Regions from separate parts of the Homo sapiens genome. Here region 2 is linked to region 1. A link means that fine-mapping ties the variant in region 1 to the expression of a gene that starts in the linked region. Tissue or cell type: tibial nerve. Region 1 holds a variant in brackets; the other region holds the start of a gene. All regions are shown on one strand. Distances are between the middles of the regions.

Region 1 (8,260 bases):
AAGCAGAGGTAGATGGTCATTCTGACACCTGCCCTGCCATGGTGTTCTCAGGCCTGGACACCCCAAGAACTGGGCAGCTGTCTCCCCTATCATCAGCAGAGCACTGCTCCTCTCCCCGTCAACCACCCTCCACCCCACCTTCCTAAATCCTAGCTGGAACCACAGAAGTGGCCAAAAAGGGAGGGAGCCAGGGTGAAATGCACTTCAAGAAGAGTAGTCTTTAAACTCAGAAGGCCTGGGGAAGATATTTACATTAGAACTGGGGAAGATATTTACATATAATTTTTACTTGCCAATTAAAGAAAAACAAACAGAACTGGAGAAGATACTAGAAACATCTATGACAAAAACGGTAACATTCTCAATACATAAAGAGCACTTGCAACTAATGAAGAAAAAGACAAACATGCTCCACCATGGGCAAATGAAAAAGTAATTCAGTAAGAATAAATACGAATAGGTGATAACAATGAAGTATCACAAATACTATTTGAACCTTAAGAAAGTGTTGGCTTGGCGCGGTGGCTCACGCCTGTAATCCCAGCACTTTGGGAGGCCAAGGCGGGTGGATCACGAAGTCAGGAGATCCAGACCATCCTGGCTAACATGGTGAAACCCCGTCTCTACTAAAAATACAAAAAATTAGCCTGGCGTGGTGGTGGACGCCTGTAGTCCCAGCTACTTGGGAGGCTGAGGCAGGAGAATGGCGTGAACCCGGGAGGCAGAGCTTGCAGTGAGCCGAGATCGCGCCACTCCACTCCAGCCTGGGCGACAGAATGAGACTCTGTCAAAAAGAAAAAAAAGAAAGAAAGTGTCAAAGATTTACAGGACAATGCTGTGTGTTAGCAGGATTATTAGAAAAATAAGCCCTCATACTTGGCTGACAGGAGGATAAAGTTGATACAGACTTCAAGAACAATTTGGGAAATGCAGCAACGCATTAAATCTGTCTATAACCTCTGACATAGCAATTCATCTTCTGGTATTTACCCAAAGGAAATAATTAAATATGTGGCCAAAGATGTAGTCACCAGAATATGCCTCACAGTGACTGTATAATTTAAGCACTGGATATAAATATAAACACTTATATAACCTAAATATTCATCAGTAGGGGGTTGAGTAAATTAATGATGGTGCATCCATATAAGAAAATATTACGCAGATATTTATAAAGGTGTTATAGAAGAATACTTACTGACATAAAAAATGACCCTGGATTTTTTTTTAATTAATTAATTGATGTTTTTGAGACTGAGTCTCATTCTGTCATCCAGGCTGGAGAGCAGTGGTGAGATCTCGGCTCACTGCAGCCTCCACCTCCTGGGTTCAAGCGATTCTTGTGCCTCTGCCCCTCAAGTAGCTGGGATTACAGGCACACACCACCATGCCTGGCTAATTTTTGTATTTTTCAGTAGAGACAGGGTTTCACCCTGTTGGCTGGCCTGGAACTCCTGGCCTCAAGCAATCCGCCCACCTCAGCCTCCCAAAGTGCTGGGATTACAGGCGTGAGCCACCACACCCGGCCCCCTGGTTTATTTTTCAGCAAATGTGCAAACATTTGGGAAAAAAAAAATCTATGATGGGATTACTTCTGGTGGAGAAATGGGGCTGGCCAGGTGCTATTTCTTGACCTGTTTGACCTGGGTGATATTACATAGTTATTCTCTTCACACACATATTTATTCTCAACCGTGGCATGATTACTATGTGGGCTGAATCACTCTGTGGTTGGTGTGGGGGACCTCCCCTTGCACTGTGGAATGTCTAGCAGCATCCTCAGCCTCTACCCTGTAGATAAACACCCTGTGCCCCCAACCCCTGTGGCAACAACCCAAAATGTCTCCAGACATTGGCAAATGTCATCTGAGGAAAAAACTGCCCCCAGTTGAGAACTACTGTATTAAATCATATATTTATATCTTCTGCACTTTCCTTGTATGTTAAATTTTATAACTAAAATTTTTAAGAAAAAAAATCTTGGAGGAAATGTGTCAAATTGTTAACAAGTTAATTCAAAGTGGCAGGATTTGGGGCTATTTTTTACTCTTGCCTCATGGCCTTTCTGTAGTTTGTCATTTTTAACAGCAAGTACATATTATGTTTATAAAAAGAAAACAGGCTAGGCGGGGTGGCTGACACCTGTAATCCAAGCACTTTGGGAGGCCAAGGTGGGTGGATTGACTGATGTCAGGAGTTTGAGACCAGCCTGGGCAACATGGTGAAACCCCATCTCTACTAAAAATAAAAATAAAAATTAGCCAGGCATGGTTGCAGGTGCCTGTAATCCCAGCTACTCGGGAGGCTGAGGCAGGAGAATCACTCGAACCTGGGAGGCGGCGGTTGCAATGAGCCGACAACGTGCCATTGCACTCCAGCCTGGGTAATAAGAGTGAAAGTCCATTTCAAAAAAAAAAAAGAAGGAAGGAATGAAGGAAGGAAGGAAGGAAGGAAGGAAGGAAGGAAGGAAGGAAGGAAAGAAGGAAGGAAGGAAAGAAGGAAGAGAAGAGAAAGCTCTTTTCTTTTTTTTTTTTTTTTTTTTGAGATGGAGTCTCACTCTGTCACCCAGGCTGGAGTGCAGTGGCTCAATCTTGGCTCACTGCAACCTCCGTCTCCTGGGTTCATGCCATTCTCCTGCCTCAGCCTCCCGAGTAGCTGGGACTACAGGCACCCACCACCACACCCGGCTAATTTTTTTTGTATTTTTAGTAGAGACAGGGTTTCACCATGTTAGCCAGGATTGTCTCGATCTCCTGACCTCATGATCCACCCGCCTTGGCCTCCCAAATTGCTGGGATTACAGGCGTGAGCCACCACGCCTGGCCGCTGTTTTCAATATTTTAAGTCATTTGTAATATGTAAACAGCTAGGTTCAGAGAGTCCGGGGCCTTCAGCCCACTTTCCCTACATAGGTGAGTTAAGAGTGTTCCCTGACGACAGGAATCCACCTCCAACTAGTTCTATAAGATCCCCCAACTCCTGCCCCAAATCTAGAGACCCCCAGGAGATCAAGAAGAGAAGAGGTGGGAGGGGGAGGCTGGAGGAGGAGACGCCCTGACAGGATGAGAGAGAGGGAAGTGTCAGTAATGACTTCTGGGTTCCTGGCTGATGACACAGGGCAGAAATTCACCAAGTGGGGACGCAGCAGATCTGGCCTTCAAGGAAATAAGATGTTTCAGCTTTAAAGCAGTAGGGATCTGGTTTTGTTCTTGTATGCATCCAAGCACCTAGAAAAGCACCAGGCACGTAGTAGGTACTCAGTAAATATTTGTTCAATGAACTAACTGCATGAATAGAGGGATATAAATAATCACATTAAGGAATGGAAAATGGGCAGGGCAGAAAAGAAGTACAGACAATTAAATGCTATAGGAAATTAAGCTGCTCGTTGACACAATCAGTCAAAAATATCTACTATGGCCCAGTTACTCATGGTAGTTTTAGTTAATGAATTAATTAATAGAAAAACAAAAGAATGAGAAGTATTCATTAGTAGCCTCTACTATTAATAGAGGTGCTTAGACAGGGAAGCCAAAAAATTGCCCTCAGAGTCCAGCCTCCCAGAGCTCATAGTCTATTTTGGGAGGCAGGTCCTGAAATTACATCCGAGACAGGGAACAACT[G/T]CAAGGAAAGTGGGGCCAGCCCAGCCCCATACATTTCAGGCTGCCTGTAGGAGCCAAACACACAGTGCAGGCTGGCTTCTCTGCAAGCAGGCCACTGTCCCATCTGTGCCATGAGGAGCTGGGCTCAGTGGTTCTCAACCCTGACTGCACATTCAAAACACCTGGAAATTTGACAGAAACAACACCTATGCCTGGGGCCCCACCGGAAGGGATCTGGCTTCAGAAAAGGCAGGCAGGGAGGTTGGCAGTGGTCTTTGGTGAAGCTCCCACACACAATGTTGACCTGCAGCCAGAGTTGAGTCCCCCCAGCCTACATGCTCTGTAAGTTCTGAACCTGGTTCTAACGGTTTCCCTCCTTAGGCATCAACTCAGCCCCAAACTCCCCAGTGAATGCTCCCGCAATGGGGAGCGCATTAATTTCACCTGCCATCACATCTCAGACCCATTTTTCCCAAGATGCGGTTCCAAAATAACCTGCATCGGGTATTTGTTAAGTGCTGATTCTTAGGTCACCTTCCAGACCTGCTGCATCGGAACCTCTACAGATGGGGACTCTGGAATCTGTTTCTCAAACACGTTCTACAAGTGATTCTCAGGAACAATCAAGTGAGCGGACCATGTCCCAGACTAAATGAAGCTCCCAGGCACACCTGGAGGATGGCTAGAGGCTGGGCCAGAAAGCGCACAAACACTAGAGAGCACCTACTTGTGCTCAGCACTGGGACAAACCAATGAACAAATAGGACAGGTCACTGCTCTCAAGGCACCTAAGCATGGAGCTGAGCACAGGCCAGTCAGGGCGAGGGTGCTAGCATCCCTAGCAAGGTGCTGCTGCTTGTCATCCAGAGAGGAGAGACTCTTGAGAGCCAGGGGGATCCAGGGTGTCCTCCTGGAGAAGGTGGCATTGCCCTGGGCTTTGAAATACAAATAGACTTGAAACGGTTGGAGATGTTACATTCTATTGTATGGTATTTCTGTTTTCCGAGGAGATCATCAGTGCAAATAAATAGTAAGGCATTACAAAGAAGGAATACAGAGATCTGGGGGGAGATAGCAGCTGCACGTGTTCGGGGTACTTGGGCGAGGGCAATAGTAAAGAGGGGCCTCAAGGGATTTGGTCATCTTCCCGACTCAAGGGCAATACCCACTCCAAGCGCTGGTAGCTCCCTGCCATGACCACTGACCTGAACACATTTAACTTCCCTGGGTTTCAATTTCCTTATTTGCAGAATGGAGACATTGGTAGCCACCACAGGACTGTTACAGGACAAGGGAAAGAGCTGTGAGCAGACCCAAACGAGTGTTAGAGCATCCAGAGCCCTATGCTAATGTGTGCCCTGCCCAGTGTCCTTAGGGAATTTCTTTTCCAGCCAATGGTGACACCGCAATTTCTGCATAGCAAAGCCTTAGGCAGCATCAGGTGGACACTGGAGAAGGAAAGACTTTGTCTTGAAGTTGCTCTTGCATAGTGAACTCCCAGGCATGTCACCAATCAATGAAAATAGTGAAATTTTCTTAAACGTTTCAAATCACATCTTTCAAAAGAGGAATACATATAACTTGTCCCACAGCAAAGAATAAAAGCTACACATAAATCTCCCTTTGCCAAATCATGTCTTTCATCTATCATTATCTTGGGGGTGCTTGGAGATATGATTCAGATCATGGGTCAGACTGAAAAGAGTTCCCTTGGTGCCTGCACTGAAGGAGGCTTATGAAAACACCAGCTACTCTTCCTTCTTCATTTGACTATCTTTTCTGATACGTAGATTTTTATTATTATTATTATCGATTCCACAAAGCTACAGGGTATGGCTCCTGGCTAAGTGGAAACCCTCTTTCCTCTCCTGATTTATCTTTCTCTGCAGAACTGGGGTCCTGACTCACAGCTATTGTTCCTTCTCTTAATTTTGACAGATCCTTCCTCTTCCCTTTCCCCTCCTGAGACACCCGCTCCAGTGGGAATCTGCCTTGGAGGGGTTGGGGGAGGGGGTTCAGGACGCCTGGTGAGAAGAGGAGTGTGTGTGTGATTTCTCTGCTGCCCCACACAGAAATACCTGTATGTATTCTAAGCACTACATGTAGGGACTTAGCTTCTTGAATTTAGAGAAAATATCCTTGACATTCCTCAAAACTCCTTGTGTCAAGGCCATTTCCATCCTATTCTGTTCCTTTTCCTACTGATTAAGACGGGGCAGATTCAATACAGCCAATGTTGGATAAAGATGGGTGAATGAATGAATGAATGAATGAAAAAAGACACAACTTTCAAAGCACATCATCTACACGCCCCGTTTTTCAGAGGCCCTGATTCCTCTCTACCTTCTGCACCCATCTTCCAACTTACCCTTATCCCCACTACCCAGTAAAAGCTCGGACTTTATTTCCTCTGGGTGTCAGTCTTAGAAAAGTGATAACCGCTGACCTACGGCACTTTCGCTTTTCCAATTTTTCAAAGCCCTGTGGCATTTATTGTGCTCTGCTTATTCCTCATCGCCCCCCTGCAGAAGTCGGGGCTGGGATTTCCGTCCCTGCTGACAAAGGGAGAAACTGTGGCCTGGACTAGGGTTAGCTCCGGAGCAGGGGCTTCAGACCCGCCAGTGAGCGCCGAGAGTCGGGTAGCACCCGAGCATGGGCGCGGCAGCCACGGGGCTCTCACCTCGGAAAGTCAGGCTTGCGACAGGGTCGCTGCGCCGGTCCTTCTTCGCACTGGGGAGGTTGCTGGCCCTCACCAGCAGGCAGCACAGCATGGCTGGGCAGCCCCGGCGGCACACAGGCGCGCAGTCAGGGCGGGAGCGGGAGCACCGGGCCCGAGCACCCACCCAGCAAGCGCCCGGCTCCCAGGCAGCCGCGCCAAGAGAGCTGTCGCCTTCGCTGCTCCTCCGCGGAGAAGTGACCAATGCCTGGGAGAGGCTGCAGGGAGGACACCGGACACCCGCTGGGCGGACCCTCCCCCTCCGGCCCCTACCCAGATCCGCCCTGCCCGCGGCGGGCGGGGAGGGACAGGGGTCAGACGGGCGCCTGTGGGGGTGCTGGTCCCTAGCTCCGCGGGTCCCAGCTCCCGGCCAGGAACGAGGCGCCGCTGACGCGGGCGCGCAGCTCGGCCTCCGAGAGCGCACAAGGCGCCGTGGGGCCTGCTCCGCGGGGGCCTCCGGTGACCAAGGCTCCACACCAGCCAGGGATCCCGGGCCCGGTGCGCACCGGTGCCGACTTGGCAGCCGCCCTGTGCGCTCGACGAAAGGGTGAGAAGGAGGCAGGAGTGCAGGCGGAAGGAGTGGGCAATCAGCGGCGGGGACGAGAGTGTGTCTTCGGGGAAACCAAGTCTGAGTGAGCGCTGAAGGGGGAGTGTGCGGAGCGTGCCGTGCACCCCGAGCCCCCCGCCTCATTGCCTCTCGCCTCTCTCCACCTGCCCCATGATCTGCGCCAGGGAGCCGGTCCTCTCCCGTCCGCAGGCTGTCTAGGTGGCCGTTCTGGTTTGCTGGGACCCCCGGGTCGGGAGAGACTCCGAGGTTCGAGTCCCCACCAACCCTCCTCGGAGCCTTCTCCGCAGCGGTGTCGAGTCACTCATCTCTGGAGGCAGAGATCTGTATTCAAATCATACTGCGTTCCCTGGAGAACTAGGGTCCAGCTGCGGCCCATTCTGTCCCCTGCAAGTCCCCCATCCCCAACAATCTCTACACTCCCTAGTCTCCACAGTGGAAAGCTGTTCAAGGTGTAAGCCATGAACGGTGACAGTCGTTTCGCTTATTATGTCTGGTTCCTTTCCAGCGTATGAACTTCTTGACACAGGGGCCCTGGCTTCGCACTTCTATCCCCCAGCACTCCAGCACCTAGCCCCTGTCAGGGCACTGTCCGTCTTCCCACCGCCCAAGTCCTCACTAACCAACCTGCTCACTCAGCCTAAACGCACTGCTGCGCAAAATCTCAACTCCCTTTCCCCTCTCTTATTTTGAGGGATACAGCATTCTCACAGGGCTAAGCCATAACCCTGGCGAATCCAACTCCGCCTCCTCCACACCTGCCCCCAACCAGTGCTGTGTTGGAGAGTAACACAGCCGGCCTGAGTGGTGCCTTTTGTAGTCATGACCCTTAACTCAAGCGAGCCCTCACTGCTGGGGGCAATCATACTATATGTCTTGTCTCCCTGTCTCCCGGATGCCCCTAGGACACCCCATCGCCCAACCTCACTCTCAGTTTGCTTCCTCTTTACGGAGCAGAGAACTTCTTCAGGTCCCCAGTCTCCTTCTAACGCCCGCCCTCGGCATCTGTGCCCAAATCCTGTGAGTTCTCTCCTGTTCCTACAAATGAATCACCCGTACTCCCCACTGGTAACAACTGGACACTTGGGCATAGACCCCATCCCCTCTCGCCCATTCAGTGGTGAGCCTGCAGTGATTCTCTCACTCTCTTGCCTTACCAAGTTCCCCTGTTTACCGGATCATCCCATCGGCACACAAGCATGATGTTATTGCTCTCAAGAAAGCACACCGTTGACCCCACATCCCCTTCAGCTACTGGTCATTTCTCCCTTTTCACAACAATGCCCTTTGAAGGAGCTCTCCATACTTTCTGTCTCCAATCTCCCTCCTCCATTCTCTCTTGAACCCACCCAGTGACACCTTCAACCCCACCAGGTC
Region 2 (8,000 bases), 400 kb after region 1:
GATTCAAACACCAATCCCATGACACCAAAACTCTTTACACTATCACAAGGCCACCCCACTTCCTCCTCAGCACTGACAGCTTCCCCAGCCTGCCTTCCTCACTACACCGCCCCCAGGTGGTCCCTCATCTGCAGGGGAGTTATGTTTGACCCCACTCCTGGATTCCCATCAAGAGACCTTTCTTGCCCTTCCTCCTGCTGCCTGGTCCTTGCTCTGGCAGAGACTTAAACTACTTAAAGAGTTGAGGGGAATATAAGAGTGGCTGCCTTCTGGATATTTGCAGAACAAGTTTTGTCAGCTATATCTAAGGGGCTTTCCCAAAAAAACCAGTTCTCACTCTCACCCCTCCCTCCACTTCCTCACCATCCGGTGTAGCTGTGGCGATGGAGCCGGCGGCATCGGTGGTGATTAAGTAGCTTTCACTCAGGTAGGGAAATCGGTCCCTCAGCTCCTCGATCAGGATCCTCCCCGCGTCCTCCTGGTCCCCACCGCTCAGAGATAGGCCCTAGGCCACGCGGGAGGTGAGCGAGTGTGCAGAGCCCCAGCCCCAGCTCTTTTCTCAACCCCCGCCCCCTCCTGATGCCTGATTCCTGTTCTCCCCATCTGGCCATACCCTGTTCACCCAGCCCCAGTCCTCCTTTCTCCCCACACAATGACCCCTCAGAAGGCTGTGGTTATAAGAACAACCTGGACTGGGGATGGACAGAAGAAAGAGGGGATTCAACAATGCCAGCTTTGGAGCTTGGAAGGGCAGTAGTGCTCTTAACAGAAAGATCAGGCAGCGGGGCAAGGTGAGGGGAGATGGAGAGAGGTAAGCTTGGTTTGGTATACACGAGGTTTGCCTGTGTCTGCAGAACATCTCACATATATGTCCAGGGAGTAGCTGGAGCTACCGCAACTTGGGAGAAAGATCTGAACCAGGAGTAAATAATAGCTAACATTTAATGAGTGCTTATGGGTCAGGCTCTATACTAACCACTTTGCAATGTATCATGCCATTTTACTTTCCCAACAACTCTGAGGTAGCTACTATTCACATTTTCCAAATGAGGAAACTGAGGCTTAGAGAAGGTGAGTAACCTACACAGGGTTACGCAGATACTGAGCAGCAAAGCTGGGATTCAAACCAAGGTCTCAGCAGCTCTCCAAAGCCCTGTGCTCTTCCAACACATTTGTAGTTTGTAGGTGGCAACTGAAGCCATGAGACTGGGTGAGATTATGACAGTTTTGACACCAGGGACTAAGTCTTGGAGGTCTTTCCCTCTGCAGTCATCAAACTCATCTAGTCCAAACTTGCTAGCTGTCTCAGTGTCACAGATGGCTGAATTCCCAGGCTCCGCCCCAGACTCACCAAGCTTCGCAGCGGTACCAGAGGATCCACCCCTGCTTTCCGTTTGGCCCTGTTCACCATCTCATTGATCCTCTCCACACACTTGTCTGTCCCGATCAGCTGGCCCCAATCAAGGGAAGAAGGAGTTACAAAGGCTTACAGAAGCTATGTTGCCCCCACAGGCTGCTCTGTGAGTCCCAGCCACCACCTCAACAGGAATTACAGAGAATAAAATCAGAACCAAGCCCTCTGATCCCCTCAGTGTGGTTTTTACCCAGTGGTTTGTGCTCAGTCCATCTGCTTCTGCCAGGATCTTCCCATCCTCTGAGACTAAAAGGACCTCGGATCGTGTGCCTCCCCTACAGAACACAAGAGGGCACTTGATCTTGCTCGGAAAAACCCACAGAGAGAGCTAAGCTTGTGCTGTCCACACTGGCAGAGCCCAGTATGATGGAGGAGACAGCTTCGACAAACTCAATCACCACTCCCAAACCCGCCTCTGTGGTTCAGTGTTTGAGTGCTCTTTAACTGAAACATAATTCTCACTCCTCTTCCCTTGGGGATGTCCTCCTTATCCTGCAAGACTCTACTTACGCTTCACCTAGTCCTCGAAACCTTTTCTGAGGTGTGGCCCACCCCAACGAATTAGTTAAGTCTCCGTTAGTTAAACCTTCATAGTGCCTCCAAAGTTATTAAAGTCTCCTCTGTATGAAGTGTGTGTTCAGACGCTTTGTGTCCGCCTCTCACTAGACTTCAAGCTCCACTGGGTCAAGCTCCTGATCACTTACTTACCCTCTCAGAACGAGCACAGGAGCTGGCACAGGCAATGCTCAGCAAACACTCCTAAGAAAAATGGCACATCTCTCTGCTTCCCTCACAATAGCTAAAGACTGCATTTCAAGATCCAGCTGCCAAGGTCTTCAAGACACCTTTGCTAGAAATGCTGACCAGATGGCAGGGTGACTTCATACATACTTAAGCAACTAAACCTTCAAATGTTGATTACTGGGGGTCACAGTAGTTCACAGGGAGATCTGTGGTGATGGGATATATGTTTCTTTATTGATCATTACTTTTAGGAATGGCAGAAGAAGACACTGAAGACCGCTCATCAAACTCAAAGAGGACATGAAATTTCAAGGGGGTAGTTAATACATGAGGTGGCAGATTCCACATCCAAAAGCATGTCTTGACGAACTGGAAGAAACGGGTCATATCTTACAGATGACTATAACAAGGATGAATGCAGACTCCTATACTGTTTTTTTTAAGTGCTACAAATACAGGATGGGAAAGATCATTCCTAACAATTCATGTGAAAAGACTTTGGGGTCTGTGAATCAGCAGTGGGGTGTGGCTGCCAGAGAAGTGAAAACAATCACAGATTCGAAAGTACAGTGCCCTGGCTGAGAGGCCAGCGACCCCCATTATTCCCTGATTTGACAAACTCAGATTCACAGAATGTTGCCACTGGCAGGGACATAGCGATCTTATTTATCCCTATCCTCACTTTGCACATACGGTAACTGTAGCCCAGGGAGGGTAAATATCTTGTCCATGGTCATACCCAGGGGCAGAGCTATTACAAAAAGTTCAGTAAACAAGCTTCTGAGCAGAAAAATGCAATCTAGTGAAAGCAGCATGGAAGGCCAACAGGGATGGAGCGGTTTTCAGACATCAGGACAACCTAGTACTCTGGCTCGCAGCTGCTCCAGCTCCCGGATAACCTCAGCCAAGATCTTTGTCCCGCTTCTCCCCACTCCCACTCCCCACCCTGCCCGCGCTCAGCAATTTCACACCTGACACCTGTTCTGCAAAACTCTGTCCGAGGTCAGGAATAGGAAAAAGGAGCTGCTTCTCCAGCTGAAGACAGCGGAGTGGGTGTTTCGTGGAAGAAAGGGGCGTGGTTCCGCCAAGAAACACAAAGGATCCCCAACCCGGGGTGTGGCTGTTGCACAGGCAGAGTCCCCGTAAGGCATACAGCTGTGCGCTCCAGGGCGCCCCTGCGCGTGCACACACCTCTTCACCGCAAGGTCCCGCCGCCCAAAGTGCCCGGACGCCGAGGATCAAGGCCACCAGCTTGCCAGGCTGGCCACGGCCTTCCGCCCCGCCTTCGGGCCCAGGCTCCCTCCGCCGGGCCGCACTCACCCCTCTACACCCCCATAGATCGCGGCCATGCTGCTGCTACCGTCGCTGCTGGTCCCGCCGTTTGCGTCTCTCCCCGCCTGACACCTCCTTCCCTCCAGCTGTCTGGGCACCGCCCCACTTCCCGTGACCTCCCGCGCAGCCAGCTGACTCCCTGTGCGCGTGCGCATGCGCGGGGCGGGGCGCCGGTAGGAGCCGGGGATGGCTGCGTCCCTCAGGCTGTCTTCCTTCTGGTGTCTCCTCCAGGTGGAGCGACTGCGGTCCGCAGCGGCCCCTCCCGTCCTCCTGGATCCTGCTTCCAGAGATGGACACTAATCCCAAGAGGAGGAATCAAAGAGGGGTATCTAGGTCGGTCGGACCCTTAGGACACATCACTGACCTGCCTGCCTGTAAACGCCCGGAAGTTGCTGGCAGTCCCGCGTTAGGTTGCGCGTGCGCACTGCTCTTGGCCGCGTAGGTTGTGACGCATGCTCGGCCAGACCCCCGCGAAGCTGTGGGCTCAGGGACCTGCGCCCATGGACCTGTAACAGAAATTACTGTAATGTTCTACTGAACATCTGCCACGCGATGGCGAGTCACACGGGCACACACGAACACTCGCTCAGATTGTTGCCCTGCGCTCGTGTGAATGTACGGATCCGGGAGGAATTGGGACCTAAACAGACAAGCCCTCGAGGCGGTCCCGGCAGCCCTGAGGAGGGAGCCTTCACCTCTTCCTACCCACCCAGTTTACTTCTTGTGGAGGATATTTGCAGGGACATAGCCCACTGGGAGAACTAGCAGATACGGCTTTACAAGTTTTTTATTGCCTTTCAGCCCCCATTCCGCTCCCCTTCCTTGCGCTGCGTCGGGAAAGGGAATGGGATCCCTAGGGGTGCAAATACAGGCCAAGTCAGGGAGAGCTGTGGCTCCTGAGGGCCTCCTCTGGCTCCTCCGGGAAGTTTTGGGCCCTCAAGGAGCAGCTTCGCGGGCCAGGAGGGCGGTTAGCTGCCCTTGGCATCTTTTTGGGGAAATCAGTTGGCCTGTCGCGGGTCGAACTCTGTCCCCCTTGACTGCCTGCCATCTTCTGGAGAAACCCCTAATAGGCTGCTGTGTCTGGTTATGCTTTAGTGAGAAAATTAGGCTTTTTAAGCTTTCTCATTTCCTACCCTACCACGTTGTAATTCACAAAAGTAAAAAGTAAATCACTACATGATAGACTCTGTATCATGTATTCATTTATAGAATATATATCATATATTCTATATCAGATGGAGAATATAATAGAGGGTAGGATTTTTTTATGCCTGCCTATGGCATTTTTTTAATTCACAGCACTTTAGAGCTGGAAGATTATCCAACATACACATTTTTAGAATTACAGTTAGTAGATTGTGGTGCAATTAAACTGGGCAGGATTTTTGGAGACTAGATTGTAGGTGGATTTTGAAATAATTGTTTCTGTCCTGTACTACTGCAATGAGCCATGGGACGTATGTGTATAAATATTAAGTTTGTCTTTGTATTGCTTGTTTAGGCAAGCAAGCAAAAGGGAAAGTGCCCAGGTTTAAGACAAGAATTGAGTTCACCATTTACTAGCTGGATGAGCTTGGGTGACTTACAGGTAATTGCTGCAGCCTCTCCTCTACAAAATGGAAATGATAAACATCTACCTGCTGGGGCTGACGCAAGATTTAAATGCCAAAAGAGTTTTGGAAACCATAAAGTACTTCACAGATCTTAACTAACTTGTATTTACATTACCAATTAGTGTGTGCTGTCCTGCACAGTATCCATATGTGAATACTGAGCACTTGAAATGTGGTTAGTCCAAAATGAGATGTCCCGTCAATGTAGAATACACACAGGATTTCAAAGACTTACTACAAAAAAAGAGTGTAAGATACCTCATTAGTCACTATTATATGAATCACATGTTGAAATAACATTCTGGATGTAGTAGATCAAGATTATAGATTACTAAATTTTGCCAATCTATTATATTTTTTAGTGTCACTACTAGAATATTTAAAATTTTGACCTACATATTTCTGTTGTACAACCCTGTTGTCTCTATCTGGACCATAATATTTCAAAGTCACTGAATGCCTATTTATGAAATAAATAATGGCCATATAATTGATTTAAAGAAGAAAGTAGCCGGGCGTGGTGGCTCATTCCTGTAATCCCAGCACTTTGGGAGGCCGAGGGGGTGGATCACCCAAGATCAGGAGTTCAAGACCAGCCTGGCCAACAGGGCGAGACCCTGTCTCTACTAAAAATACAAAAGTTAGTTGGGCGTGGTGACAGGCGCCTGTAATCCCAGCTACTTGGGAGGCTGAGGCAGGAGAATCACTTGAACCCAGGAGGTGGAGGTTGTGGTGAGCCAAGATTGTGCCATTGCACTCCAGCTTGGGTGACAAGAGTGAAACTCCGTCTCAAAAAAAAAAAAAAAAAAAGAATAAATAAAATACGTTTATGTTGTACATTATAATTCTTTTTGTTTGTTTGTTTGTTTGTTTGTTTTGAGACAGAGTCTTGCTCTGTCGCCCAGGCTGGAGTACAGTGTGGCGTGATCTCAGCTCACTGCAAGCTCCGCTTCCCGGGTTCACGCCATTCTCTTGCCTCAGCCTCCCCAGCAGCTGGGACTACAGGTGCACGCTGCTACGCCTGGCTAATTTTTTGTATTTTTAGTAGATACGGGGTTTCACCGTGTTAGCCAGGATGATCTCGATCTCCTGACCTTTTGATCCGCGTACCTCGGCCTCCCAAAGTGCTGGGATTACAGGCATGAGCCACTGTGCCCGGCCTTGTACATTATAATTCTATAGAGCTCTTTTATGTACCTTTATCTTGTTTGATCATCCTAACAACCTTATGAGAATGACAGATTTTTTTTTTTTGAGACAGAGTTTCACTCTGTGGCCCAGGCTGGAGTGCAGTGGTGGGATCTCGGCTCACTGCAACCTATGCCTCCTTGGTTCAAGTGATTCTCCTGCCTCAGCCTCCCAAGTAACTGGGACTACAGGCATGTGCCACCACGCCCAGCTAATTTTTGTATTTTTAGTAGAGACAGGGTTTTACCATGTTAGCCACACTGGTCTTGAACTCCTGACCTCAAGTGATCTGCCTGCCTTGGCCTCCCAAAATGCTGGGATTATAGCAGTGAGCCACCGCGGCAGGCCGAGAATGACAGATTTCTGATCACATATTACAAATGAGGAAACGAGAGGCTCTAAAATAAAAGTAAAAAGCATAGGCTCACACAAATAATAGATGTGGCTTATTATGTGTGGGTAGTTAATATAAAGGGAAGGAAATTCAAGATGTTGCAATATAGCAAGATATACCAGTTTGCACTGGGCTTGCAACATCCCAGTAGCTGCTTCTATGACACTCACAAGGTTAATAAAGTTCTTTAAGAATCTGCAAGCCACAGTCTTCTTCTCTGTCTTCTGTACTTTGTTCCTATGACCCCAGGGAGGCCATAGTTTGGGAGTCAGGGGGAAGAGTGTTAAGAGAGACAATGGGAAAATATCTTTCCTCACAAATCCACTTAGGATTTTGGGACAGATGACTTTTGGTCAGGGTCCTCAACAGATTTTGTTGACTTTATTCATGAAACACAGCCACATCTGTTTTTACTCACCACAGCATGTCCAGGGCTAACCTCAGTACTCCACAAATAGCTTTGAGAGTGGTTTATAAACTATAAACACGGTGTCACAGACATGAGGGGTAGCAAATGCCTGATTTGAACTAAAGAAGGGAGCAAGCAAATTCCACAGCAGAAACTAAATTTACAGAACAGATCAGGAAGAGAAAGAGAAAATAAGGAGAAGTGAAATTGTGAACTGAGGGAGGAGTTGTTGGACGTGTGGTCAGGGAGCCTCAAAGAGATCTAGCCCTAGTCGGTCTTGCATTAGAAGTTGCCAGTACATGTGTGACCTCAGCACTGTGCTTTAAAATAATCTGGCAGGTTACTTATAGGGTGACAAATGGGAAGGGAGAGTTTGGAGAAGGGAAACACTTAGAAGGCTGGACATTGGCCCAGGTGAGAGATGAACAAGCAAGTGGTGGAGGTGGAGGTGGAGGTGGGGGGCAGAGCTGGAGTCACGGAGGGAGCCAGGAGGGGGGTCATACTAACATCTGCTGTTGATCTGGGATGAGGAAGGAGAGAGAGGCTGGAGTTCACTTTCCCACAATTGAAAGAGGCAGGGGTGAGGGGCTTCCTTACCAACGGTGGAGGTGGGACTCTGGGGCTGGCATCTGCAAAGCAAGGGAAAGACAGCCTACGGGACTGCCAGGCCCAACCCAGAAGGGACGAGGGGTGCATGGGGTCTTCAGAACACAGAGGCAGCCGTAGACAACTGCTGTAAACGTTCTGTCCTTCAAGTCTCTTCAGCCATGTAAGGGAACTGAAAGAAAAGAGGGACCTTATCTGCCTTGATCTTAAGTTGTTCTGAGGGATGTGGGGCCTCAGGCCAGGGCAGCAACCTGAGCAAATCCGGTTGGTTTACTCCCTCTTCTTTTCTGAGCATGTGGG

Evidence for each region. PIP is the estimated chance that this variant, and not a neighbour inherited with it, causes the effect.
Region 2: NAGK starts here. The variant in region 1 is fine-mapped to the expression of NAGK in tibial nerve (GTEx, PIP above 0.99).

What each region holds. Positions count from the first base shown.
Region 1 is chr2:71,464,956-71,473,215 of GRCh38, reverse strand. DYSF (dysferlin) reads right to left here and starts at 6,517. Exons shown (of 56, transcript NM_001130987.2): 1 at 6,283-6,517. The coding sequence starts at 6,373. The variant G/T (reference allele first, on the strand shown) is at 3,624.
Region 2 is chr2:71,064,191-71,072,190 of GRCh38, reverse strand. It overlaps NAGK (N-acetylglucosamine kinase), which reads right to left and starts at 3,543. Exons shown (of 10, transcript NM_017567.6): 1 at 3,479-3,543; 2 at 1,605-1,689; 3 at 1,352-1,450; 4 at 364-505. The coding sequence starts at 3,507. RefSeq lists a silencer at 3,258-3,317.